Regions from separate parts of the Homo sapiens genome. Here region 2 is linked to region 1. A link means that fine-mapping ties the variant in region 1 to the expression of a gene that starts in the linked region. Tissue or cell type: whole blood. Region 1 holds a variant in brackets; the other region holds the start of a gene. All regions are shown on one strand. Distances are between the middles of the regions.

Region 1 (8,000 bases):
GTTTTTTGAGACAGAGTCTCACTCTGTCACCCAGGCTGGAGTGCAGTGGTGCAATCTTGGCTCACTGCAAGCTCCACCTCCTGAGTTCACGCCATTCTCCTGCCTCAGCCTCCTGAGTAGCTGGGACTACAGGTGCCTGCCACCACACCCTGGCTAATTTTTTTGTATTTTTAGTAGAGACAGGGTTTCAGCGTGTTAGCAGGGATGTTCTCGATCTCCTGACCTTGTGATCCACCCATCTCGGCCTCCCAAAGTGCTAGGATTACAGGCGTGAGCCACCGTGCCCAGCCCCAATGTTTGTTTTAAAGATTTTCGTCTTCTAGTTGGGTGCAGTGGCTCCAGCCTGTAGTCTGAGCTACTGGCGGAGGCTGAGGCGGAAAGAGTGCTTGAGCCTGGGAGTTTGAAGGTGCAGTGAGTTATGATCATGCCACCTGCACTCCAATCTAGATGACATACTGAGACCTAGTCTATGCAAAAAAACCACTTTTTTTTTTTTTCTGAGATGAAGTCTTGCTCTGTCACCCAGGCTGGAGTACAGTGGTGCCATCTTGGCTCACTGCAACGTTCGGCTCCTGGGTTCAAGTGATTCTCCTGCTTCATCCTCCCCAGTAGCTGGAATTACAGGTGAGTGCCACCACGCCCAGCTAATTATTTTTGTATTTTTTTAGTGGAAACACCATGTTGGCCAGGCTGTTCTCGAACTCCTGACCTCAAGTGATCTGCCCGCCTTGGCCTCCCAAATGCAAAAAATTTTTGAAAACTAGATGGGTGTAGTGGTTTGCACCTATAATCCCAGCTACCTCGTTAGCTGAGGCAGGAGGATCGCTTGAGCCCAGGAGTTCAAGGCTGCAGTGAGCTGTGATCACCGCACTACACTCCTCCAGCCTTGCTGACACAGCAAGACCGTATCTCAAAAAAAAAAAAAAAAAAAAAAAGGAAGCAAACTAAGACTTCAGGACCTTCTTAGTGTCAGGCTCCATGGTAGGGACTGACAAGTGGCTTCATTTAATTCCTGGACCTGCAGGGCCTACCTAGATGATACCCGGGCTTTCAGGTGCAGAGCCCTTCAGACCCTTTTTTTTTTTTTTTTTTTTTTTTGAGACAGCTTCACTCTGTCATCCAGGCTGGAGTGCAGTGGTGCGATCTCAGCTCACTGCAACCTCTGCCTCCTGGGTTCAAGGGATTCTTCTGCCTCAGCCTCCTGAGTAGCCGGGACTATAGGCATCCATCACCATGCCCTGCAATTTTTTGTATTTTTAGTAGAGAAGGGGTTTCACCATGTCAGCCAGGCTGGTCTCAAACTTCTGACCTGAAGCGTTCTGCCTGCCTTGGCCACCCAAAGTGCTGGGATTACAGGCATGAGCCACTGCGCCCGGCCTTCAGACCCTTCTCACTGGGCTGCTCCAGTGGCGAAGGAACCCCTCACTCCAAATAATTACTGGGCACACAGGTAATACTTTCTGTTTGGATATTTGTGGGATGACCTGATTTTTCATATTTATCAAACTAAAGTCAACTAAAGCAATGTTTATCAAAGCGGGTTGTGACCCATTTGTGGGTCACAGCTTCTTAAAAAAAGAAAAAGCCAGGCGCGGTGGCTCACGCCTGTAATCCCAGCACTTTGGGAGGCTGAGGCGGGCAGATCACGAGGTCCAGAGATCAAGACCATCCTGGCTAACATGGTGAAACCCTGTCTCTACTAAAAATACAAAAAATTAGCCAGGCGTGGTGGCACATGCCTGTAGTTCCAGCTACTCTAGAGGCTGAGGCAGGAGAATCGCTTGAACCAGGGAGGCGGAGGTTGCAGAGAGCCGAGATTGTGCCACTGCACTCCAGCCTGGGCGACAGAGCGAGTCCGTCTCAAAAAACAAAAACAACAACAAAAAAAATAAGGCTGGGTGTGGTGGCTCACGCCTATAATCCCAGCACTTTGGGAGGCCGAGGCAGGTCAGTCTCTTGAGCGCAGGAGTTCGAGACCAGCCTAGGCAACATGGCGAAATCCCATCTCTACAAAAAATATAAAAAGTTATCTGGGCATGGTGGCACAAAACTGTGGTCCCAGCTACTTGGGAGGCTGAGGTGGGAGGATGACCTGAGCCCAGGAGGGGGAGGTTGCAGTGAGCTGAGATCACGCCAGTGCACTCCAGCCTGGGCGACAGAGCAAGACCTTGTCTAAAAAAAGAAAAGAAAAAGAAAAAAGAACCCAAGTTTTAAAAAAAGTGCAACTTAAATGGTGGTGTTTTTATTGCAGATGTTTTTGTTTTTTTTGAGGCAGAGTCTCTATCTCCTAGGCTGGAGTTCAGTAGCACAATCTTGGCTCACTGCAACCTCTGCCTCCCAGGTTCAAGCGATTCTCCTGTCTCAGCCTCCTGAGTAGCTGGAATTATAGGCGTGTGCCACCACGCCTGGCTAATTTTTGTATTTTTAGTAGAGATGGGGTTTCGCCATGTTGTCCAGGCTGATTTCAAACTCCTGACCTCAGGTGATCCACCCACCTCAGCCTCCCAAAATGCCGGGATTACAGGTGTGAGCCACTAGGCCTGGCCAGCAAATTTTTCAGTTAGGCATGTGTGTATATATATATATATATATATATGTACTATAATAGGATGTACATTGTGTTTTTTACCGTTTGAGGTCATAAGAGTTTAAGAGCCTCTGATTTACAGGTTAGGAACAGAATTTCACTCTAATTCAAGGAAGGTAGTTTGGTTTGGAGGTCTGAAGATCAGTCTTCTAATTCATCAAAATCCCTTCCTCTGGCATCTGCGTATGAAATGGTCCCTATGTTCAAGGAGCTCGCCATCTAATTGGGAAGGTGGACACATAATTTTTTGTGAATGAGTAAGATGTGTGAGACATAAGAGTAGCAATGATAAGGAAATGTGGAGATGGAAAGGGCTAATAACTTCCTGGTGGGACCCAAAATGGTTTCACTCACCTTTGATCTGGGTGTTGAAGGATGTATAGGAGTTTGCCAGGCAGAAAAGAAGGGAGATGGCATATTTGGCAGAGAGATCACAGTGGGGCGGGGAGATGGGTGGATTTGGCTGGGAATGGTGGCCATGCCTGTAATCCCAGCACTTTGGAAGGCCGAAGAGAGAAAATTGCTAGAGCTCAGGAGTTTGAGACCAGCCTGGGCAATAGAGTAAGACTTTGTCTCTATCAAAAATTTAAAAATTAACTGGGCTTGGCGGTGTGCACCTGTGGTCCAGCTACTCAGGAGGCTGAGGTGGGAGGATTGCTTGAGCCCAAGAGGTTGAGGCTGCAGTAAGCCGTGACTGAGGGCTTGTGAAACAGCAAGAACCTGTCTCAAAAAACAGTGGGCAGGGAGGGGATTAATGAATAGGCAGCTACGTTCTGGGACTGGAGGGACTCGAGGTGGCTAGAAAGCAAGAGGTACTGGGAGACAAGGCTGCAGACATTTCTTTTTTTTTTTTTTTTTTTTGAGACAGAGTCTCTATCGCCAGGCTGGAGTGCAGTGGCGTGATCTTCGCTCACTGCAACCTCCGACTCCCTGGTTCAAGCGATTCTCCTGCCTCAGCCTCCCAAGTAGCTGAGTAGCTGGGATTACAGGTGCGCACCACCACACCCAGCTAATTTTTGTATTTTTAGTAAAGACGGGGTTTCACCATGTTGGCCAGGATGGTCTCGATCTCCTGACCTCGTGATCTGCCCGCCTACGGCCTCCCAAAGTGCTGGGATAACAGGCGTGAGCCACCGTACCTGGCTGGCTGCGGACATTTCTATCAGGCCACATCCTTTCCATCAGCCTGACTGCAAGGCTTCCTTGCCCGGGAGCCCCCCAGTAGCCGAGCGGGGAGCCGGCAGGAAGCTGGATGGAGCTGTGTCTC[C/T]CTGCACGTATGTGCTCCGGGCCTGAGCCCAGCAGAGGTGGTGGCAGGCAGCCTTTCCCATCTGGTTTGTTTTGGCAGTTCCCTCCTGCAGCCTATTTGTTTGTTGTTTCTACTCCATGTTTTCTCACTGCTTGCCAGTGGGGCTTCCCTCAGTGGCAGTTCTGCAGAAACAGACCTCCACATTGCCACTGAAGGAAGAGTGGGGCCTGGGGCTCACTCTTTTGTGTGTGGGGGGGCGTGAACCAGGCTCCTGCATCTACTAGAGTCCATGCAGGGCAGGTGGGGCAGGGAACCCTGCCTGCAGGCCCGACCGTAGGGAGGCTAGCTCCAGCCTCTGTTCTCCTCCCTCTACTGGCTCTCCAAAGTGACTTCCATCAAAGCTTGGGAGGCCAGAAACAGTGAGCCACGTCTCTTTGTAATCCCAGCACTTTGGGAGGCCCAGGCAGGCAGATCACCTGAGGTTAGGAGTTCAAGACCAGCCTGGCCAACATGGTGAAACCCCGTCTCTACTGAAAATACAAAATTAGCTGGGCGTGGTGGCAGGCGCCTGTAATCCCAGCTACTCAGGAGGCTGAGGCAGGAGAACTGCTTGAACCCGGGAGGTGGAGGTTGCAGTGCACCAAGATTGTGCCATTGCACTCCAGCCTGGGTGACAGAGGGAGACTCAGTCTCAAAAAGAAAAAAGCTTGAAAAACGGGAGAGGGGTGAGGAGATGGAGGCAGAAGGTGTGTGCAAATGCAATGCCCTGCCCTCCTTTTTACATTTTATTTATTTATTTATTTATTTTAGAGACAGGGTCTCACTCTGTAGCCTAGGCTGGAGTGCAATGGTACAATCATAGCTCACTGCAACCTCAAACTTCTAGGCTCAAGCAATCCTGCCTCAGCCTCCCAGGTAGTTAGGACTACAGGCAAAAAAAAAAAAAAAAGAGCTACTATTGTTTTCTTTGTTTGTTTATCTGTTTGTTTTGAGACGGAGTTGTGCTCTTGTTGCCCAGGCTGGAATGCAATGGCGTGATCTCAGCTCACTGCAACCTCCGCCTCCTGGATTCAACTGATTCTCCTGCCTCAGCCTCCTGAGTAGCTGGGATTACAGGCACGTTCCACCAAGCCCGGCTACTTTTTGTATTTTTAGTAGAGGCAGGGTTTCTCCGTGTTTGCCAGGCTGGTCTCGAACTCGTGACCTCAGGTGATCCGCCTGCCTCAGCCTCCCAAAGTTCTGAGATTACAGGCGTGAGCCACTGCGCCCGGCCAAGAGCTAGTATTGTTTAGTATGAAGCCATTTTGCTAAGAAATGGTTTTAGGCTTCTTAATAGGAATGGGGAGAAGTGAAGGAAGGCAATTTTGTGTGCGTTTAATTCTCAAGTCTGAGTTATTAGTAGAAACTAACAACTGAGCCAGACTCAGTTGTGGCTCGCATAGCAGGGAAGGGGACGGGACCTTGAAATATTAAGTGGTTTGATCAGGCTGATGATCCTGCTAGAGAAGCCCAGCACTTTGTCCCAGGTGAGTTTCTGGTGCTTGGTCAGGAGTTGAGGGAAAAATGGTGTTTCACAAACCCTCAAACCACTAGAGAGGTTGGACGAGAACGTGTCAATTGTAGTTCCTTAGGAAACAGATGTCCAATTGCACAGAGATTTGGGATGAGGCAAAGGTCATCCTACCAGAAGGAAGCCTGTGAAAATGGCCACTTAAGGTCCCAAGACCCTAATGACATTATGGGTGTTTTTCAGTTTATGTGTTTGAGTTTAGCGCTGTTTTCTAATTTTGGTCACGTATTGTTTTTGTAATGAGCAAAAGTTCATCATAAAAGTTGCTTTTTTTTTTTTTTTGAGACAGAGTCTGGCTCTGTCGCCCAGGCTGGAGTCCAGTGGCACAATCTTGGCTCACCGCAACCTCCGCCTCTCGAGTTCAAGTGATTCTTCTGCCTCAGCCTCCTGAGTAGCTGGGACTATAGGTGTGCGCCACCATGCCCAGCTAATTTTTGTATTTTTAGCAGAGATGGGGTTTCACCATATTGGCCAGGCTGGTCTTGAACTCCTGACCTCGTGATCCGCCCGTCTCAGCCCCCAAAGTGCTGGGATTACAGGCGTGAGCCACCGTGCCCGGCCTAAGTGAGCTCTTCTGCTCGTGTCTTAGTTCATCAACCAGCAAATAATTTTTCCCTTTTCAGGGAAGTATATTTGTCTAATAGCAAACAAGACTAATAGACTGAGTTGGAAGGAATCTAGCAGGTCCTGTGAAGGCGAAAGTCCACCCTCTGTTTGCATTCTTCAAGTGACAAGACGGTTGCCTTTTCTTAAGGGAGCAGAGGCTTGTTATAGAGGAGACAGCAAGCCATTCTCCTCTGCATCATCCATGTATCCACTGACCCATTCATTCATCAGATATTTATTAGTTAGTGGAACGGGCAATAAAATAACTTCTTGAGGTATCTCATCAGTTTTATTTTTACTTATTTAGAGATGGGTCTTGCTCAGTTCCCCAGGCTCGAGTGCAGTGGCATGATCATAGCTCACTGCAACCTCGACCTCCTAGGTTCAAATGATCATCCTTCCTCAGCCTCCCAAGTAGCTGTGACACCAGGCATGTGCCGCCATGCCTGGCTAACTTCTTTATTTTTTATATAAAAAATATAACTCTATAAAAAATAACTTCTTTATTTTTTATAGAGCCAGGGTCTCACTGTGTTGCCCCGGCTGGTCTTGAACTCCTGGCCTCAAATGATCACCTTAGCTTTCCAAAGTGCTGAAATTATAGGTGTGAGCCACCTCACCCGGCCCCTCATCAGTTTGATAACTAACTCCTTGATCACCTTACTTAGAGAACAAAGGATCAGTCAGGAATAGGCTTCATAAAACTTTGGTAGGCCAGGTGCGGTAAAGGATTTTCCTTTGAGGACTTTGGCAAAGGATTTTCCTTTGGTTCTCCAGCAGGAATCCCTTCTTCAGCATCTTTTTTTTTTTTTAAGAAAGGGTGTTGTTCTTTCGCCCAGGCTGGAGTGCAGTGGTGCGATCATAGCTAACTGCAGCTTCCAACTCCTGGGCTCAAGCAATCCTCCAACCTCAGCCTCCCGAGTAGCTGGGACTACAGGCATGTGCCAGCATGCCTAACAAATTTTCTGTAGAGACAGGGTCTCCCTATGTTGCCCAGACTGGTCTCAAACTCCTGGGCTCAAGGGATCCTCCCTCCTTAGCCTCCTAAAGTGCTGGGATTCCAGGCGTGAGCTACCGTGCCTGGCCCTCCAGCATTCTTGCTTCCTTCACAGTTCCCCAAAGGCCACCCAACAAGGTCCCCAGCCACCTCCCCTCCCAGCACAGAAGGTCTTCTGGGCCTCTGGCTGAACTCGAGCTGAGCTGAGAAGCCACTGCTTGGAAATGAGGAGGGAAAGAGAAGCCAGGAGGCCCCCCTTCCCAAGTCCGACTCCAGGCAGCTGGGGCTCCGTGCTGCCTGGGGGTCTGGGACAGCTCGGGGGGCTGTAAATTTGCTTCTGCTTGGATTTCCAATCTGAATCCACTGCCAGGAGGAATCCGTGGAGCAGAGCCTGCCTCCACACCCGCCATCCTCCTGTCACAACTGGCCCTTTTCAAACCCTGCCTCAGTGGCTGCCTGCTCAGGAAGTGCATGGAAGCTTCACACGCCCCAGGATCCCAGGGAGCTGGGTTGACCGGGGGATGGCTCAGTGCCCCCTCTAGGTTGGGTTCTTCTCTGAGCATGTAGTGGAGGGACCACATAATGCAATCCACACTTGGGTGGTTACCACAGAAAAGGGACATGCTGGACGCTTGGTAGACAGAAAAATGCATCAGAACTTCCATACGCAGCCCTTCGCTCTCTTCGATGACTAGGGCACCTGCACTACGTGACTCCAGACGGTACCATTCCCTTCAGAGTCTCTATGGATGCCCCTGGGAGTTGGGCAGTGCTCATCTTTGACGGCTGTCCATGGCGGTCCTGCCAGTGAGATGCCTAAGACATGTACATAAATGACGGCAGTGCCAGGGAAGGAGACGATTTCCTGCTGGGAGATCAAGAAAGGCTTCATGGAGGAGGCGATGCACAGATTTGGGCTTTAAAGAAAACGAGGAGATGGTGTGGGAGGGTAATCCAGGATGAGCCAAGGGCAGGAAGGCACAAACCATCTCCT
Region 2 (9,969 bases), 280 kb before region 1:
AATGCCTCTGGGGAGTAGAACTGGGTAGATGAGAGTGAAAGGAAGCTTTTGGTGGACTCCCTCGTTTATCTTTGGCATTTTAAAACCTATAAATGTTGCCACTTCAAAAAATATTTTAAATTATTATTATTTTTTTTGAGACACAGTCTTGCTCTATCACCAGGCTGGAGTGCAGTGGTGCAATCTTGGCTCACTGAAACCTCTGCCTCCCAGGTTCAAGCGATTCTCCTGCCTCAGCCTCCCGAGTAGCTGGGATTACAGGAGCGCACCACCACCCCCAGCTAATTTTCGTATTTTTAGTAGAGACGGGGTTTCACCATGTTGGCCAGGATAGTCTCAATCTCCTGACCTCATGATCCACCTGCCTCAGCCTCCCAAAGTGCTGGGATTACAGGCATGACGCACCGTGCCCGGCCGAAATTCTTTAAGTAAAATTAAAAGAGAGTATTTCGACCAACCTAAAAATGCAAACATTTCCAGTATTTAGGTTCAAATCCTTATCTAAACCTGTAAAGATCTTCCTAGGCCAAAGTATATTTCTGGAGCCCCAACCAACTAGATAGAATTGTGGTTCACTGTTGTTGAGTTAATAAGATGTAATAAATCTATAAACAGTGATGTATAGTATCACATAATATGTATAATCTGTGCATGTGATAACACTGCTTTCAAACAAAAGCTCTAACCTGATCAGTAAAGAAGGGAAGGCCAGGAAGTCACTTTCTGATAACTCAGGTTGCCCCTCCTCTGTTTCAGGTGAATTAACTTCTTTCACAATAACAAATACTGAAAGCTGGTTCAGAGAGAGAGAGAAAAAAATATAGACAGTTAATAAAAATATAAAATACCACTAACTTTCTTCTGTACAGCTACTAAATGACTAGGGGCTGTAGACCCAGGAATAAAATTTGAGGTTTTAATTTCTCTTTTCTTACCTTAGATGAAGAGGGGCAGGGTGTGGGGTTGCGGGGAAGGCTTTAATAAGAGGGGCAAAGGCTTTAAATAAGAATGTAAAAGAACCAGTACAGTTCCAGAAACCATATTCTCATCACTCAACATATGAAATGAGGGTAAATAAGGAGGGAAAAAGAACTTAGAAATAATAAAGGGAACCAAGGGAAGGTGAATGAGGATCTCAAAAAAGAGTTTTATTTCACTTAGAACATTAAAAACCATCACATAAATTTTGAGATGAAATCACCTAACTCAGCAGTTCTAAGTGTAGTCCCAAAATCCTAGGGGGCCCTCTCCCTTTTCCAACTACCTATCTGTATTAAGCTGGATTTTCTCATGTACTTTTACAAAAACAAGATATCCCAACAGACTGAATGCAGAAACAGACGAGAACCCAGTTGTTTTCTATTAAGCCAGACATGAAAGAGATTTGCAAAAATGTAAACCACCACCATTCTTCATGCTAAATTTTCTTTTGTTTAGGAGAATGTATTTTTCATAAAAACCTGTTTAGGTTAACATATTTATTATTGTTATTTCTAATCAAACTTTAAATGTTTCTGAATTTTAATTTCTAAAATGTTAGTATCAACAGATACAAACCAAATAAAAGCTCTTTGGAGTCCTCCATAAATTTTAAGGGTATAAAAGGGTTCTCAAACCAAAAAGTTTGAGAACTGACCTAGTGAAATAACTTGTCAGTATTGCCAATACTTTTTTAAATAAACAGTAATTCTCTCTCCCCACACACCATTCAGAATGTGTTCCCAAATTTCCTCTTCCTAACCATCCAATCATTCCCTTCCTTATATTGTTCCTCAAATCCTTGGTCTAAGAGAAGTAAACCCTTTAGCATTGTCCTCTAACCCAGACTCCCTGAGCCTCAAAAAAGCGGTATTTAAAGAGTATATTTCAGCCGGGCGCAGTGGCTCACGCCTGTAATTCCAGCACTTTGGGAGGCCAAGGCAGGTGGATCACCTAAGGTCAGGAGTTCAAGACCAGCCTGACCAACATGGTGAAGCCCCATCTCTACTAAAATACAAAAATTAGCCAGCGTGGTGGCAGGCGCCTGTAATCTCAGCTACTTGGGAGGCTGAAGCAGGAGAATCACTTGAACCCAGGAGGTGGAGGTTGCAGTGAGCCAAGACCGTGCTACTGCACTCCAGCCTGGGCAAAATGAGTGAGACTCTGTCTCAAAAAAAAAAAAAAAAAAAAGTATATTTCAAATCTTTTTTAAGCCAGAGTCTGATCTTCCTTTTTGCATTAATAACAGTATGTGGACTCCTGCTTATTTTCATGCCTCAATTAACTAATAGCAGTTTCCTCCCTCCCTCTCACTTTTTCTCCCTCCCTCTCTCCCTCCTTTACTCCTTCCTCCCTCTTCCCTCCCTCTCTTCCTTCTTCCCTCCTTCTGTCTCCCTTTGTCCCTCCATCCCTTCCTCCCCCTCCTTCTCTCCCTCCCCCTCCTTCCTTGCCCTCCTCCCTTTCTCTCTCCCTCTTCCCTCCCTCCTCCCCCTCTCCTTTCTCCCCCTCCTCCTTCCCTTTCCTCCCCCTCTCCTTCCTACCCCCCTCCCCCTCCTCCCTTCCCTGCTTCCCCTCCTTCTTCCTTCCTCTCCCTCCCTCCCTTCTCCCTCCCCCTCCTCCCTCCCCTTTCCTCCCCCTCCTCCCTTCCCCCTTTCCTCCCTCCCTCTCTTCTCCTTCCCTCCCTCCCGTTTCCTCCCCCTCCTCCCTCCCTCCCCTTTCCTCCCTCCCTCTCTTATCCTTCCCTCCCTCTCTCTTCTCCTTCCCTCCCTCTCTCTCTTCTCCTTCCCTCCCTCCCCTTTCCTCCCCCTCCTCCCTCCCTCCTCCCTTTCCTCCCTCCCTCTCTCTCTTCTCCTTCCCTCCCTCCTTCCTTCCTCCCCCTTCCCTCCCTCCTTCCTTCCTCCCCCTTCCCTCCCTCCTTCCTTCCTCCCCCTTCCCTCCCTTGCTTTCTTCCTTCGTGTTTGTGCACAAGCTCAGCAAGCCCGATTTAAAACTTTTAACAAGAAAGAAGAGGCGGGTGGATCACCTTAAGTCAGGAGTTCGGGACCAGCCTGGCCAATACGGTGAAACCCCGTCTCTACTAAAAATACAAAAAAATCAGCCGAGCACGGTGGCGCGTGCCTGTAATCCCAGCATTTTGGGAGGCCAAGGTGGGCGGATCACCTAAGGTCAGGAGTTCGAGACCAGCCTGGCCAACATGGAGAAACCCCGTCTCTACTAAAAATACAAAATTAGCCGGGCACAGTGGCGGGCGCCTGTAGTCCCAGCTCCTCGGGAGGCTGAGGCAGGGGAATCGCTTGAACCCAGGAGGTGGGGGTTGCAGTGAGCCGAGACTGCGCCACTGCACTCCAGCCTGGGCGACAGAGCGAGACAGTCTTTAAAAAAAAAAAAAAAAAAGCCCCAATTCCAAATCCACCTGCAATCCAAAGGGAAGAAGTTTTGCAGAGAAGTTCTTCCCATTTGTGGGGCGCTCCCATTTTTCCTCTCTTCCCTCACCCCTTATTCTCTCTCAGGGATAGCGGTTCAAGTCGGTGTCCCTGAGCCACACGTCCCCCTCTCTCTTCCCCGTCCCCTCCCTTCCTTCCTCCCACCATGAGGGAATCTCCCCTCCACCCCCACTCCTGCCGAGGCCCCGTGATCCTTATTCTCACTCATATCGTTGGTGCCCGCCAGGAGACTGGGCTATTTTTTTTTTGTCTGTTTCTTGGGGGCGACAGATTCTGAGGAAAAAGGGCGAAGGGCTGGTTGTCGCCCTGAGAAAGTTTCTCCTCAGGCAACGGGTGCCAGGACTGGCAGCGCCTAGCACCTTCACCTACAACCAGAAACTAGCTGGCTACCTTCAGGAGCAAGGAGGACCTAAAGGCGATGGGCGGAACCAGCTGCCGCAGCGACTCCGCAAGCCCCTCACACCTCAACCCAGGTTTCCCGCCACCAAGAAAAGGCACGAGGACGCCCTGAGCACTAGCTCCACCCGAGGGCGGTGCGCTCGCGGGGCCGAGGCGCATGCGCAACTGGAAACAGCGTCTGCGTTTCCGCAGCTGAGGTAAATCCGCCATCTTCCACCCGAACGTCCCGGGAAAACTACAAATCCCAGAATCCTCTTTGGTGTCACATATTTTTAGGCGGCGGCCGCGGCGCCTGATTGTTCCTGAAGCACATCTACTAACTTTTCTGTTTCAGACTGCCTTTTCCTCCCTCTTTCCGTTCTCTAATTCCTCCTCTTCCTGCTGGTCTCCTTCACGCCCTCACCTTAGGATTTTGAGACTCTCCTGGACCCCACTGTCACCCCTGCCGCCCTGTCCTCGGCCCAGCACTCCGCTGGCAGGGAGACCGGGCGGCGCATCTCCCCGGGAAAACGGCGTAGACTCGCTTCTTCCTCATTGGCAGAAGCTGGGGGGGCCCAGCGCGGACCGAACCCCCGTCCCCGCCCACACTCGCTGGTATATAAGTCGGCGTGGCGCCGCGGTGGGTGTTGAGAGGCCCGCGAACTGACGGGCCAGTGAGCGGGCGTCGGGAGTGGGCGGATGCGTTGGGGTTCGGGTCGTGGGTGTTGAGGCGGAGAGGAAGGCGTGGTGTGGCGTCTCCAGGTGATTGCGATTGGGGGAAGGTAGAGGAGCCAGAGAACGACTCAGCCGTTTCGGGGGAAGAGGAAGTTGGACAACATCGGCTGTTTTAGTGCTTTTTATTTTTCCCCAATTCAGCAGAGAATATTTTCAAGGGGGGTGAGTTATAATGACCTATCGCGTTTTACTGAGCCCAGTTCCACTCCCGCCCTTCCTTGGCTTTGTAGGGTCTCCCCTCCGCTCCCTCGGAAGCGCTTCTAAGAAGGTGGGCAGAGGGGGGGAGGTTTGCTACCAACAGCTCATGAATAATTCATGAGCCCCGCCCTTCGTCAGGAAGCCCCGCCCCTCCGGATCGCGCTGACGCACGCTGCGTTTACCAAACTTAAGGAAGCGACGTCACAGGCCCAACCCCTAAGACGGGGGGCGGGGCGCCAGTTTCAGCACGTGCTGCCTCTACCCGCGCAAGCCCAAAAGGGTGTGCGCAGGCGCTGCCCACTAGGGGGGAGGAAGGAGGCGGGGTGGGGAGGTTGTTGGATTTAGAGCCGGGCGGAGACCGCTGAGACTCATTCCTCAGGAACAAGGGTCGGGTGTCAAGGAGACCTTTTCACACCAGCTCCCGTCCCCCGCCTACGGTGGGTGGGATCGCGCGGCAGAGACAAAGGAGATCAGTAGGGCCGGACATAGCTGCGCAGGGAAGTAGGGTGTCAGTTTGGGGTGGTGGGCTTTTGCGGGGGCTGTGGGGGGGTTATATTTAAACTCCCAGAGCCGTTAAGTTGGTTCGTAGTCTGATGCGCGCGCAACCAGGGTGGTGGCGGAGTGCGCATGCGTGGTTCCCGGGCGAAGGGAACGCGCGCTCACCGTGCGCGCTCGCGGCCGGGTGGTAGTGGCGGAGGAGAAAGGGGTCGGCGCACGCGCGGTTGAGTCCTCGAGTAGTTCGGGTCTCGCGGGCCTCTTGTTTTGGTCTCGCGGGCTAGTAGGGCGCACTTGGCGGGGAGGCGCTTGGGCGCGAGACTAGGCGTGAAGAGCAGAGCTGCGCGCGCACTCGGGAAAGGGGGGAAGGGAGCAGGGTCCAGGCAGGGGGGGTTAGGCCCCCTGATCCCCCTCGTTACCCCGACTGGCACGGAATAAGGGGAGGAAATGATCGAGATGGCGGCGGAGAAGGAGCCGTTTCTGGTGCCGGCCCCGCCGCCGCCGCTCAAAGATGAGTCGGGCGGAGGGGGCGGCCCCACGGTGCCACCGCACCAAGAGGCCGCCTCTGGGGAGCTCCGCGGCGGGACGGAGCGTGGTCCGGGTCGTTGCGCGCCATCTGCGGGGTCCCCAGCCGCTGCGGTCGGTCGGGAAAGCCCCGGGGCCGCGGCCACCTCCTCCAGTGGTCCCCAGGCGCAGCAGCACCGAGGGGGCGGCCCCCAGGCGCAGTCGCATGGGGAGGCCCGCCTGTCGGATCCCCCGGGGCGAGCCGCTCCCCCGGACGTGGGGGAGGAGCGCCGGGGAGGGGGCGGGACAGAGCTGGGTCCCCCTGCTCCTCCTCGACCCCGCAATGGCTATCAGCCCCACCGGCCACCTGGGGGGGGCGGGGGCAAGAGGAGAAATAGCTGTAATGTAGGGGGAGGCGGGGGAGGCTTCAAACATCCGGCCTTCAAGAGGCGCAGGCGGGTGAATTCGGACTGTGACTCTGTGTTACCCTCCAACTTCCTCCTGGGGGGCAATATCTTTGATCCCCTGAACCTGAATAGCCTCCTGGATGAGGAAGTGAGCCGCACTCTCAACGCGGAGACCCCTAAGTCATCCCCCCTTCCGGCCAAAGGGCGAGATCCGGTGGAGATCCTCATCCCCAAAGATATTACTGACCCGCTCAGTCTCAATACTTGCACTGATGAGGGCCATGTAGTTCTTGCTTCGCCACTCAAGACTGGTCGGAAGCGGCATAGACACCGGGGACAGCACCACCAGCAGCAGCAGGCAGCCGGAGGGAGTGAGAGTCACCCCGTGCCGCCCACAGCCCCTCTCACCCCCTTACTCCACGGGGAGGGCGCCTCACAGCAGCCGCGGCACAGGGGCCAGAACCGGGATGCCCCCCAACCCTATGAACTCAACACAGCCATCAACTGCAGGGATGAAGTGGTGTCTCCCCTTCCATCTGCTCTGCAGGGTCCCTCAGGCTCCCTATCAGCCCCTCCAGCTGCCTCAGTTATCTCTGCACCCCCATCTTCCTCCTCCCGACATCGCAAACGTCGCAGGACTTCCAGCAAGTCGGAGGCAGGGGCTAGGGGTGGAGGCCAGGGTTCCAAGGAAAAGGGCCGAGGGAGTTGGGGAGGCCGCCACCACCACCACCACCCACTGCCTGCAGCAGGCTTCAAAAAGCAACAGCGCAAGTTCCAGTATGGGAATTATTGCAAATACTATGGGTACCGCAATCCTTCCTGTGAGGATGGGCGCCTTCGGGTGTTGAAGCCTGAGTGGTTTCGGGGCCGGGACGTCCTAGATCTGGGCTGCAATGTGGGCCATCTGACCCTGAGCATTGCCTGCAAGTGGGGCCCGTCCCGCATGGTGGGCCTGGATATCGATTCCCGGCTCATCCATTCTGCCCGCCAAAACATCCGACACTACCTTTCCGAGGAGCTGCGTCTCCCACCCCAGACTTTGGAAGGGGACCCGGGGGCAGAGGGTGAGGAAGGGACCACCACCGTTCGAAAGAGGAGCTGCTTCCCAGCCTCGCTGACTGCCAGCCGGGGTCCCATCGCTGCCCCCCAAGTGCCCTTGGATGGAGCGGACACATCAGTCTTCCCCAACAATGTTGTCTTCGTCACGGTAAGAGGGTCCAGAGGCTCTTGGAATAGGGGCCAGGTGTGAAGATGAGATTAAATGGGAATGTAGCAGGGAAGGTTATGACCCAGATCCTCAAAAGAGGGGTCTGGGTTGGCAAGTGAGAGCCTCTGCTGGGCGTCTCTCCCCTCTTATAACCTGGAAAGGTGGGGTGTCTACCTTGGGGCATTGACCCTGGAGTCCTTTGTCATGACTGCAAGGATCTCCAAGATAGAGGAGGACTCTCTTTTTGCTCTGCTCCCGGCTTGGCCTATAATCCACACTGGTCCACCTTCCCTTCCCTTGAAGGCTGCTGCTCACTAGGGAATTTGATCCAGGTGGAACTTGGTCCTCAGATTTACTGAAGGAGCCTGAGAATGGGAGTCAGACATGGAATGTCTTCTAGGGAGGAGATTAGGGTAGCGACAGACTAATACTGGCGTTTCTGCCCTTTGATAGCCACCTTGCTCCTATCAGCGGCTTTTGTTTTCCTAGACAGTTTGTTGAAGCGTGTCAGGAACCCAAGTGGTTTGGCTGTAGATCCTCTCCACATTGACCCTAGATAGTGGGAGAGGGAAGAACCAGAAACTCCTCTGCAGAGAGGAGAGAGTCCTGTGCCCTGCAGAGTCCCCTGACTGCACACAGCTCCCCAGAGAACACTCCAGTTAGGCTGCCTACTGGGATCTTTGGCATTGTGTTGGGTTAAGCCTGAAGAATGGTCTTTTTAGAGGGTTGTGATGAGCTGAGCTTCTAGAAAAGGCTTCCTAAAGGATGTGGCTCTTCATTTCTCTCAGAGAAAGGAAAGAATAGGCCTGAAACTTTGCCAGCCCCAACTGCAGGGAAGGAACCACAGGTCTGCCTTTGAAACCTGGGTTAGTTACCCTTGCAGAACCTGCAGTCACTCCACTTAATGTCTGTGAGTGAGAATAAACACAGGATATGGTCCTGGGACCCTAGCTTTGGAAGACTTCATGGATAATTTGCACCATTTAAAATTACTCAGGCTCCGTCGACCTTTTTTGGCTTACCACCAGTAGGAAGAAGCAGAGGCAGGAAGGTGTAGAGGAGAAAACAAAACTCAAAGAGGGCAGGCACCTTTTGGGAGTTAGTCTGAGAAGAAAGTGGCCACGGGCTAAAGTGAGGCCGCGGGACTGTATCGGCCTCAGAGCAGGTTGCCTGGGAGCAGGGGTTCTTTGATTCCCTCAGTTGACCTCACTGCCGATTCTTGCCCTCAGGGTAATTATGTGCTGGATCGAGATGACCTGGTGGAGGCCCAAACACCTGAGTATGATGTGGTGCTCTGCCTCAGCCTCACCAAGTGGGTGCATCTGAACTGGGGAGACGAGGGCCTGAAGCGCATGTTTCGCCGGATCTACCGGCACCTACGCCCTGGGGGCATCCTGGTCCTAGAGCCCCAACCCTGGTCGTCGTATGGCAAGAGAAAGACTCTTACAGTGAGTTGGGTGTTGGGGGAATAGTCATTCCTTTGGTTGAGGCAAGAAAAGGCCCCGAGGTGGGCATCGCCCTTGGCCAGGGGAGGCGGCAGCGTGCTGAAGTGGTCCCTTGCCTCTCTCCTTAGGAAACGATCTACAAGAACTACTACCGAATCCAATTGAAGCCAGAGCAGTTCAGTTCCTACCTGACATCCCCAGACGTGGGCTTCTCCAGCTATGAGCTTGTGGCCACACCCCACAACACCTCTAAAGGTAAGGCTGGTTTATTTTGTCAGGGAGGCTGGTCCTGGCTGAAAGAGTGCAGACCCCCATGGGGATTCTTGAGGTGCTGCCAACCCCTTCTGATCACTCTCTCTCCCCTCAGGCTTCCAGCGTCCTGTGTACCTGTTCCACAAGGCCCGATCCCCCAGCCACTAAGTGGCCCCCTAAACAGAAAGTGTGAAGAGGCTGCCCTCGCTGCTCATAAGGACCTGGGGGAAGAGGAAAGTGTCCCAAGGTCTTTCCTTTCTGACTCCAAAAATAGTTTCCTTTCTTGGATCTGCAAAGAAAGCTTTTCTTCCGTCGCTGCCTCAGCCTCCTCCCTATGCCTCTGGCACCTGCGCAGCAAGGCTGGCTGTGCTGGAGTCACCATCATCTTCCTCTCCCCCAGCCTCCCAGGCTGGATGGCATGGACTGTTTGCTGACCTCTGTTCTCTTAGGGCATGGGAGGTGGGAGGATATCAAATTCTCTAGCCCTTTCCTCCTATTCTCCCAAGGAGAGAGATTCCCATTTCTCCTCGGCCATTGTACCTAGCTCTTGTCCCTAGCTGCATTTCAGTGGACCATGGATAGAGGGACTGAGGGTTAGACGGGGAAGACTGGCAGGGAGGCACGCAGGTACTGTGAAAATCCTTCCCTTTGCCCTCCCCCAGTGGGAGAGGGGGTTGGGTTTTCAATGTGAGAACAGCACAATAAACTTGATGTCTAGGGCAGTGGCCCCCACACCTGTCTCGGTACTGTCTAGCTGGTGGGGGATGGGTGGTGCCTCCCACCAGAACCTGTGCTGTTTATCTTCCATCTCAAGGAAGACACGTTTTTCAGTGGTTGAGCTGATTGTTGAACACTAGTCAAGTCCACACGCAAGTACACAGAAGCCTAGTCAGGAAAAGGTGTGTAATGCAAATTTTGGTGTGGAA

What was found. PIP is the estimated chance that this variant, and not a neighbour inherited with it, causes the effect.
Region 2: ZCWPW1 starts here. The variant in region 1 is fine-mapped to the expression of ZCWPW1 in whole blood (TOPMed, PIP above 0.99).

Annotation. Positions count from the first base shown.
Region 1 is chr7:100,707,694-100,715,693 of GRCh38, forward strand. No RefSeq gene overlaps it. Among named protein-coding and RNA genes, the nearest start is that of POP7, 5.6 kb to the left of the region's middle. The variant C/T (reference allele first, on the strand shown) is at 3,855.
Region 2 is chr7:100,424,344-100,434,312 of GRCh38, forward strand. It overlaps ZCWPW1 (zinc finger CW-type and PWWP domain containing 1), which reads right to left and starts at 4,360. Exons shown (of 18, transcript NM_001386010.1): 1 at 4,225-4,360; 2 at 687-793. MEPCE (methylphosphate capping enzyme) reads left to right here and starts at 5,488. Exons shown (of 4, transcript NM_019606.6): 1 at 5,488-7,346; 2 at 8,576-8,794; 3 at 8,920-9,046; 4 at 9,159-9,775. The coding sequence starts at 5,676. The coding sequence ends at 9,211. RefSeq lists silencers at 3,838-3,887, 5,708-6,177 and enhancers at 4,048-4,277, 5,298-5,437, 6,308-6,387.